Linked DNA regions of Homo sapiens: region 1 is linked to region 2. A link means that fine-mapping ties the variant in region 2 to the expression of a gene that starts in the linked region. Tissue or cell type: whole blood. Region 2 holds a variant in brackets; the other region holds the start of a gene. All regions are shown on one strand. Distances are from middle to middle.

Evidence for each region. PIP is the estimated chance that this variant, and not a neighbour inherited with it, causes the effect.
Region 1: it holds the start of ATP13A5-AS1, and the variant in region 2 is fine-mapped to the expression of ATP13A5-AS1 in whole blood (INTERVAL, PIP above 0.99).

The regions. Positions count from the first base shown.
Region 1 is chr3:193,305,369-193,309,613 of GRCh38, forward strand. It overlaps ATP13A5-AS1 (ATP13A5 antisense RNA 1), which reads left to right and starts at 1,876. Exons shown (of 2, transcript NR_046758.1): 1 at 1,876-2,032. ATP13A5 (ATPase 13A5) reads right to left here. Exons shown (of 30, transcript NM_198505.4): 22 at 1,959-2,001; 23 at 191-300.
Region 2 is chr3:193,281,172-193,285,416 of GRCh38, forward strand. It overlaps ATP13A5 (ATPase 13A5), which reads right to left. Exons shown (of 30, transcript NM_198505.4): 27 at 3,743-3,945. It also overlaps a transcript of PLAAT1 not described here. Among named protein-coding and RNA genes, the nearest start is that of ATP13A5-AS1, 24 kb to the right of the region's middle. The variant TAA/T (reference allele first, on the strand shown) is at 2,257.

The DNA of each region.
Region 1 (4,245 bases), 24 kb after region 2:
AGTCACTTTTCTGTGGCTTTTACCAGCACTCTTGAGTAACACTAATGGCCCCCTTCATTGGTTCTCCAATAGCACTTCACCCATTCCTCTGTTGCAGCATTTATCACTTTAGCTTGTAGTTGAATTCTGTCTGCAGAGCCAGACAATGGGCCCATTGATTGTAGGGCTGGAAGAGGAAAAAATGACTTACCTGATGAGATGAGGCACACACTGGATGTTGGTTGTTTTAGAGGTAAAAGGGGATGCCACAGATGCTTCCTGCTCTGATAATGAAATGCCTGCATGAGCCGCTTTCAAAGCCTGGAATGATAAGCCCATGTCTCACCCATGACTTTTCAGGTTAGGCTTTACCTCTTAAAACACCAAGAGGCTGTTCTTCACATCATAAAGGTATAACACTGTACTGTTTCATCTTTGGGTCTCTGTTTAATGCTGTCCCTCCACCTGGAGTGCCCTCTCTCCCCTGATCCACAAAGTCACTAACTAAACAATGACCCAGAGGTAGAAAAGTGGTGTGTGTACATGCATGCGTGTGTGCATGTGGGCATGTGCATACAAGGGCCCTGCCTGTGGGGATTATAGATGTGAAAAGGAGATGGAAGCCCTCATTCAAAAACTCAATTAAAAAGATGACAGAATTTGGATGGACGTTGGTTGGGGACCTTCACCGTTTCAGTTCTTGTACCTGGTGGGAATCTTCATGAACAAAGGTGAAAGAATTCCTAGGCCGATCCTATAAGAATTGTGTGGGCATAAAATGAACTTTTATATATCTGTAGTTCCACAGAACTACAGAGTACCTGGCGCCATGAGTACATACTAGATTCAGGTTTAATAAATAATAGGACATTTTCTTCTTCCTCTTTGATCTCTAGTTCGTATCTCTATTATGTACTTTAGGACCATCTACTTTATGTTAGGGTTAGTTTTATTCATGATTCTTTCTTCATCAGACAATGAACTCTTTAGGAGGCAGAGACTATGTCCCTTTTTGCATTTGATTTTTTTGTTTTATTCTAAACGCCACATAATTAATGTGAGAGGATACGTATTCTAGATTTGAAAGAACAGACTAAAAATTAGCTTTTTCTCATGAAACATAAAGCAAAAAACATCTCTAGCTATAAAAATTTCTAGCTATAAACACAGTTTTCACAGAAATTTGGAAATAATATTTAAGAGAGAAATAAAACAAATACCAAGATCTTAAATCTCTAATAAGCTTTGGAAATACAAAGAAATCTTCCTCACTTCTTGTCCCATAAATCAGCTACTGAAATATTTCCTTAAGTACATAATCTTGAAGGTAGACTATTTGTTTCCTTCATGTCTTTAAAACTCAGAATATAAAACATTCACTGCCCTTCTACTGCATATGAAAAATAATTTGCTGATAATCATTTTATTTAGCTTTTTCTATAGCATAAAATAACTAAATAGTTTGGTCTAGGATTTTACTGAGTGAAAGAGTTCTGGGTGAAGCAAACTTAAAAACTAACCAGAGAATGAAAGTTTGGCAGGAATAAATATAATTTACATATAATTCAAAACTTTAATCATCAGTTTCAAACTTCGTTTCATTGAGTCTTTATCAGTTGTGTGACCTTGGGAGGGGGGAAGAAATCACCTCCTTGAGAAATCATTTCATTACTGATAACAGGAAAGATTTAAAGCAGATAGACTTGTAAAGTTCCATCTTTGGAACCTGAAATATGGGAGTCTAAGTAGCCTTCCTTTGTGTTTATTATTCTAGGAGTTTCCAGAAAGCATCGGAAGTGTCTCATCTCCCTTTACTCCCCTCCGCTTCCAACCCACACTCAGGTAGAGGTGGATATAAACAGCAAAATAATCAAATGGTTGCTGGTGGAAGGATGAAGAGACAAACCCCAGGAGAGCCTGAGGTCCTCCAGAGGGATATTAGTGAGTGGCTTGTCTGAGCAAAAGCCATTTCTACTCACCCCACAGTCGTTAGCTCCATCTCCACACATGCCCACATAATAACTGCGGGAGACAGGAGAAGAAGGATTAATAGGTAAGAAAAATGAACAGCTCACTTGAATATTTTCCATCATAACTAAGTCACATGTGATTTGTGTGTATGTGTGTGTCCCCTGAACACACCTGGAATCAGGCTGAAGAAAAATGGTTTGGAGAGACATATTCCCAGAGGGAAAAGGCAGTTGCGTTATTTAAGTTGTTTCAATCAATCACATTGAAATGGTAGTGATATAACCAAGGACATCGGCAAAACAGTGATTGCACACTTTAAAAGAAGTCCTGCTTGATGATACGCACCAAGGCCAAGCTTAAGAGTATGCAGTCATGAGCAGAGCACTTCCCACACAACCTAATGCAGAGATCATAACCCAATCCAGCTGCATTTTAGTCACTGACTGTTGCTGAGCATTTACAGCTCAAATACCAGGATGAGAAATTTCAAAAACAGTTTAACAGATATAACTAGAGACATATATTCATATTTTTGATGCATGTCAGGGTGAAAATAAGATATGTTTTCCATCTATATCAGTTTGGTGTGCAAGCACAATACAAATAGAAGAGTAAAAATTAATACGGCTGCCAAAGAAAAGGAGTTTCAGATGTAAGACACTGCCTGCCTTCTATTATAAGTTATACATTATAAGTATTGATAAATGACAATATTCTTAAAGACTTAGCTGCATTTTTCTAAAAACAGAGTTATGAAATCAATAAGGAGAAAAAATAAAGTTTTGTTAGCGTTTCGTTATTATTAGTTAATGCATAAGAAACAACCACTTTTATAGGTCAAAAACAGTTAATTAAATGTGGCCAGGCACGGTGGCTCACACCTGTAATCCCAGCATTTTGGGAGGCTGAGGCAGGCGGATCTTGAGGTCAGGAGTTCGAGACCAGCCTAGCCAACACAGTGAAACCCCATCTCTACTAAAGATAGAAAAAATCAGCTGGGCATGGTGGTGTGCTCCTGTAATCTCAGCTACTTGGGAGGCTGAGGCAGGGGGATTGCTTGAACCTTGGAAGCGGAGGCTGCGGTGAGCCGATATTGCACCGCTGCACTCCAGCCTGGGCAACAAAGCGAGACTCTGTCTCAAAAACAAAAAAAAGTCAAATGTAGGCACACCCCTATGGTTCAATCCGATACTGGGCTGTGTAGATGAAAATAATCATGCTATATATGTTCATGTCATGACTACCCACAATTGTTGAAAAATGGCTCCTTCTTTCAGGCTTAAAGCACATATTTAGTCTCTATATCACATCAAGAATCTTATCATCTTCTAGTATTCCCTGAATTCAGAAAGAGAATGCAGACAGCCTTATGCACATTGCCAATGACAAAGGCATGAGGAGGAAGATTGGGATGTTGAGAAGACAGCTCATTCTGAGGCAGTGTGTGTCTTCCTGAATTCATTTTTTAAGGGGAATATGGCTTTTCAAAGTTAGGCATTTTAGTTGGCAAAATTTCTCAGGCATTTGAAAAAGGTAAAATTACTTTCTTCAGCAATATCATGTAATGATCATGTGAATGAAATAGTCATTTAGTCACTGGTTACTTACCCAGCCTCAGGCATTCTGGAAGTTAATAGGCAGTTTGTAAGACTTCCCTATGAATGCTTGGGTAACAAAATCTAACAATAAAAGGGTGTCTCCTGATTTCACCAACAACTCACCAGCCATCATCTAAAGATTCACTACCCTATGTTCCTTTTCACTTCCTAGACTCTGCAGCCCCAAACTGTTACATTCCCAGAAACCAGTAGGTAGATCTGGTCTCAAGAAGTACCATTTCACTATAAGGTAACTTGGTCATCTTTATTTTTGAAGGGGGTAATAAAGGACTTTCTCTTGACTTTCCCTGCTGGGGCCAGATAAAGGCAAAATGCTATTTCACCTCTTGCTAAGAAGACCAGAAATTATTCACATATCTTCTAATGGACCAACCTAAAATAATTCCAGGGTATAACGCACCTACTTCCCCATTTTTCTGATTCTAAGCTATACAACCTGCCCCACTATTTCTGCTACATCCAAGCATGGGAGGGTTCTCTAAGATATATGCCTTATGGCCCACAGAACAAATGCTCTCTGGAATAGGTAACTTCTAAATGGCCCTCAGCGATCCCCAGCTCCTGGCATCCACGCCCTGTGTAATCCACTCCCCTGGACGTGGGCTGGATCTAGTGGCTTACTCCTAAGGAAGGGAATACGGCAAGGGTGATGAGACTGGCATATAAAAAACAGCAA
Region 2 (4,245 bases):
GATTTTTCATTTACTTCATGGATTTGGAGTCCCAGGAACGCAGAAGCTGGGAAGAAGAGGACGCCTGAAAGGTCTGTTCTGATGAAGTCCTAGACCTCACTAGCAACTGGGGCTGAGTGGGGTGCACATCACTGTCTAATGGTCTAAAAACTAGGTCTCGCCTGTGCACAAGTGAGCAATGTAGAAACAAAATTATAAGGTCATCTTTTAAAATTCAGCTTTGATTGAAAAGATGTAATAAAGATTTGAATGTTGGCTCTTCTTGGTTAGTTGCTGCTGCTGAGGAAACATGAAAGAATAGGGCTCTGTTAATGCAGGTGCTTTAGGAAAGCAAATCCTGTGTAAGCCATTACACTTTATTTTCAGGTAAGGTTAGTAATGTTCACATTTGTTTCCAGAAAAGTTAAGCCTCTACTTTTTCATAAAGTTGAGCTTCTGTCAAAGGCTGTTAAAAAGGGCAAAGAGTTTTCTGTTACATCAAAATAAAGTTGCTTGTATATTTTAATAGTAGTTCTAGAGGCTTTTGACTTATAACCTGAGAGTATATGTTTGTTATCTTATTACATTTGTTAGCATACCTGTATGCTAAAATGTAAAACATTTTACATTTAAAATTATCAGTTATGTCTGGTATAGGGGTTTGAATTTACCCACAAGCTTTAAGTCACTGTGAGGTAACTACCTCTAATTCACTCAATTCATGTAAAAGGACTTTGCAGCTACTATTAAAATTAAAGTACTAGGCCAGGTGCAGTGGTTCACCCCTGTAATCCCAGCACTTTGGGAGGCCGAAGCGGGTGGATCACGAGGTCAGGAGTTCAAGACCAGCCTGGCCAAGATGGTGAAACCCCGCCTCTACTAAAAATACAAAAAAATTAGCCAGGCGTGGTGGCGGGCACCTGTAATCCCAGCTACTTGGGAGGCTGAGGCAGAGAATTGCTTGATCCCGGGAGGTGAAGGTTGCAGTGAGCCAAGATGGTGCCACTGCACTCCAGCCTGGGTGAAAGAGCAAGACTCCATCTCAATAATAATAATAATTAAAGTACTAGGCAACAAATATATTCTGCTTGTAAAATACATTTATAATTTTAAAAATTATTCATGTATAACAACATACATTTCCTGTGTATTAGTAATAATTCGTTAATAAATATAATGGGAAAGTCATTCACAATATAAGCAAAAATATAAAATACAAAGGATTAGTTTCTTTTTTTTTTTGAGACGGAGTCTCGCTCTGTTGCCAAGGCTGGAGTCCAGTGGCATGATCTCAGCTCACTGCAACCTCCGCCTCCTGGGTTCAAGCAATTCTCCCTGCCTCAGCCTCCCAAGTAGCTGAGATTACAGGTGCCCACCACCACCCCCAGCTAATTTTTGTATTATTTAGCAGAGATGGGGTTTCACCATGTTGGCCAGGCTGGTATTGAACTCCTGACCTCAGGTGATCTGCCCGCCTTGGCCTCCCAAAGTGCTGGGATTACAGGCATGAGCCACCGCGTCTGGCCCAATTAGTTTCTTAAATAAATGTGCAGGCAGGATTTGTAATGGAGAAAACAACGAATATTTGCTAAGAGACCTTAACAAAAAGCAAGAATAAATGGGGAGACATGACATGTTCCTAAATGGGAAGATTAAGTTATATACCAATGTAAATTCTTCCCAAAGTATCAAAATCCCAAAGGGAAATTTTAAAAGCCTGGCAATTTATTCTAGAGTTTATCTTAAAGAATGAACAGGAAAGAAATAAATACATTTTTTAAAATGAGGAATAATGAGGATACACTGATCTTGCCACTTATTAAATAAAACTTATTATAAAACTATAAGTTTTAAAGTATAGTGGTAAATCAAGAATAGACTGATATTTAAAAACAAAAAAGATAGTATGGAAACTATATAGACATACACATACAAACAATGCATAATATAAATGATGTACAGACAAACACATATATGAAGATAGGATGAAGGTGGTATATTCAGTGGAAAAATAATTGAATATTAAAAACTCAATAGTCAATAAAAGCTGCTAGAAAAACCGGTTGACTAGTTGGAGCAACTTGTTTTAATCCCTACCTCAAACTATACACCAAAATTAACATTAGATTTTAAAAGCACTTTAAAACTAATTGTGATAATCTATCCTATTTCATAATTAGAAAAAACTTCCTGTGCATAAAGACAATGGAAAAAAGATCACAAAAAATAAACAGCTCATACAAATAAATGAGAAACAGCAATCCAACAGAAAAAAAA[TAA/T]GTTTAAAAATGTAAACACACAATTCACAGAAGAAGAAATTGCTAATGACATGAAAATACGTTTCTCCTCACTGGTGATCAAAGAAATGCAAACTAAAACCAAATAAGACACTGTTTTCTAAAATCTTATCAGACCAGCACAAATTTTGTTTTTTAACTAGTACTTCCTGTTGGATATAATATTAAGAAGCACACCCTCTCCAAAACAACTGATAGAAGTGAAAATCAGTACAAACTTTCTAGAAAGCAACTTTAAATTGTGTATTCCAGGCTTTGACATTTTCACACTATTTTACCAGTTAACTGAATTTTCTTATCCTAAGGAAATAAGAGGCTAAGTCAAAGTAATTTACACAAGTATACTTTTATAGCATTATTTATCATACTGAAGCCAATTGCTTGATAGGGTGACCATCTTTATCATGCAATATCTGGATAGGTATCATGTATCTAGTTTGCCTTGACATTCTCTATTTAAGCCTGGCATAATTATTAATAGTGTCTCACTTCACTCCTAAAGAGTGTCCCAGTCTGATCAGTAATGATGGGGCATATTCTCTGGCTTCTTTGGCCTGCGGATTATTATTATTATTATTATTATTATTTTTTGAGACAGAGCCTTGCTCTGTTGCCCAGGCTGGAGTGTAGTGGTGTGATCCTGGCTCACTGCAGCCTCGACCTCCCAGGCTCAAGCAATCCTCTCACCTCAGCCTCCCCAAGTAGCTGAGACTATAGGCAAGAGCCACCATGCCCAGCTAATTTGTAAAAGTGTTTTTTTAGAGACAAGGTCTCACTGTGTTGCCCAGGCTAGTCTCAAACTCCTGAACTCAAGTGATCCTTCCACCTCAGCCTCCCAAAGTGCTGGGATTACAGGAGTGAGCCACCACTCCCAGCCTTAGCTGGGAGGACCTTAATTGTAGCTTTGAAGAGTTTTTAAAAAACTCTACTTAAATTAATACACAGGGAAAGTAAGTAAGATTTTTTGAGCCCCTATTATAAGTGCCAGACCCTTTACATAAATTGTGCTAGGCCCATTCCATAAAATGCTTTGTTTAGTCCTTCCCTCAGGACTTAACAAATTAAGGATACTCCCTCCCATTCTACCGATGAGGAAATAAGGTCATAGAATGGTTAAAGTAACTTGCCCAATGTTATAAGGCTAAAGAGGTTAATTTGCATTTGAATTGGTTAGAAAGCCTTTAATAAAATATCTTCACATGCATGTATGTGTTTAAAATGATTCTTGATGACTCACAATAGGACAAGACTCATGTGACAGTTAAATAATGTCTGTGCTTATCTGCAAACAAGCAGATTTTCTGCATGTGGGCTCTACCAACGATGACCACTGCATTCAACAACAATTTTAGAGTCATGCAATTGTTTCTTCCTCAGCCCATCATTTCACCAGTGAGGTACAACTCTAGGGTGAGAAAGGGAATGGGAAAATATTCAGAAAGAAAAATTAAACTTTATATACTTACAGTTTGTATAGATGGGTTTTCGAAATGGCTTTCCCTTAGAAAAGATGAATGCTACTGTGATATAGTTGATGGTGGTGATGGGCCACAGTGTGGTGGTCTCAAAACTTAAAATTGAACCAGGAATCAGAGTTGCATTTCCAGTCCAGTTTCTTTCCAAACTCACATTTGTTGAAAAATTACTTTGGTTGGCCAGAAAACACTCACTACAAAAGAATCACCAGTGTTTATGAAACATTTGATTCCATTTTTGTCCATTAGGTGAAAAAAAAAATAATTTAATCACTACCATGGGATTTTAGCTTTCAAACTATGTCAGCCAGTAACTACCAAGACATACTTTGTTCACCTCTTGCTATGACAAAGCAGAAATAAAAGGAAGTCAAGATTGTTCTTTGTCTGGCACTCCGTTTAGAACAAGTGATCTACCTTGAAAGGGCCTGGATGACAATATTTTATGAATTCCTATCAATTCAAAGAGTAAATAGACCATGTCAATTAAACTG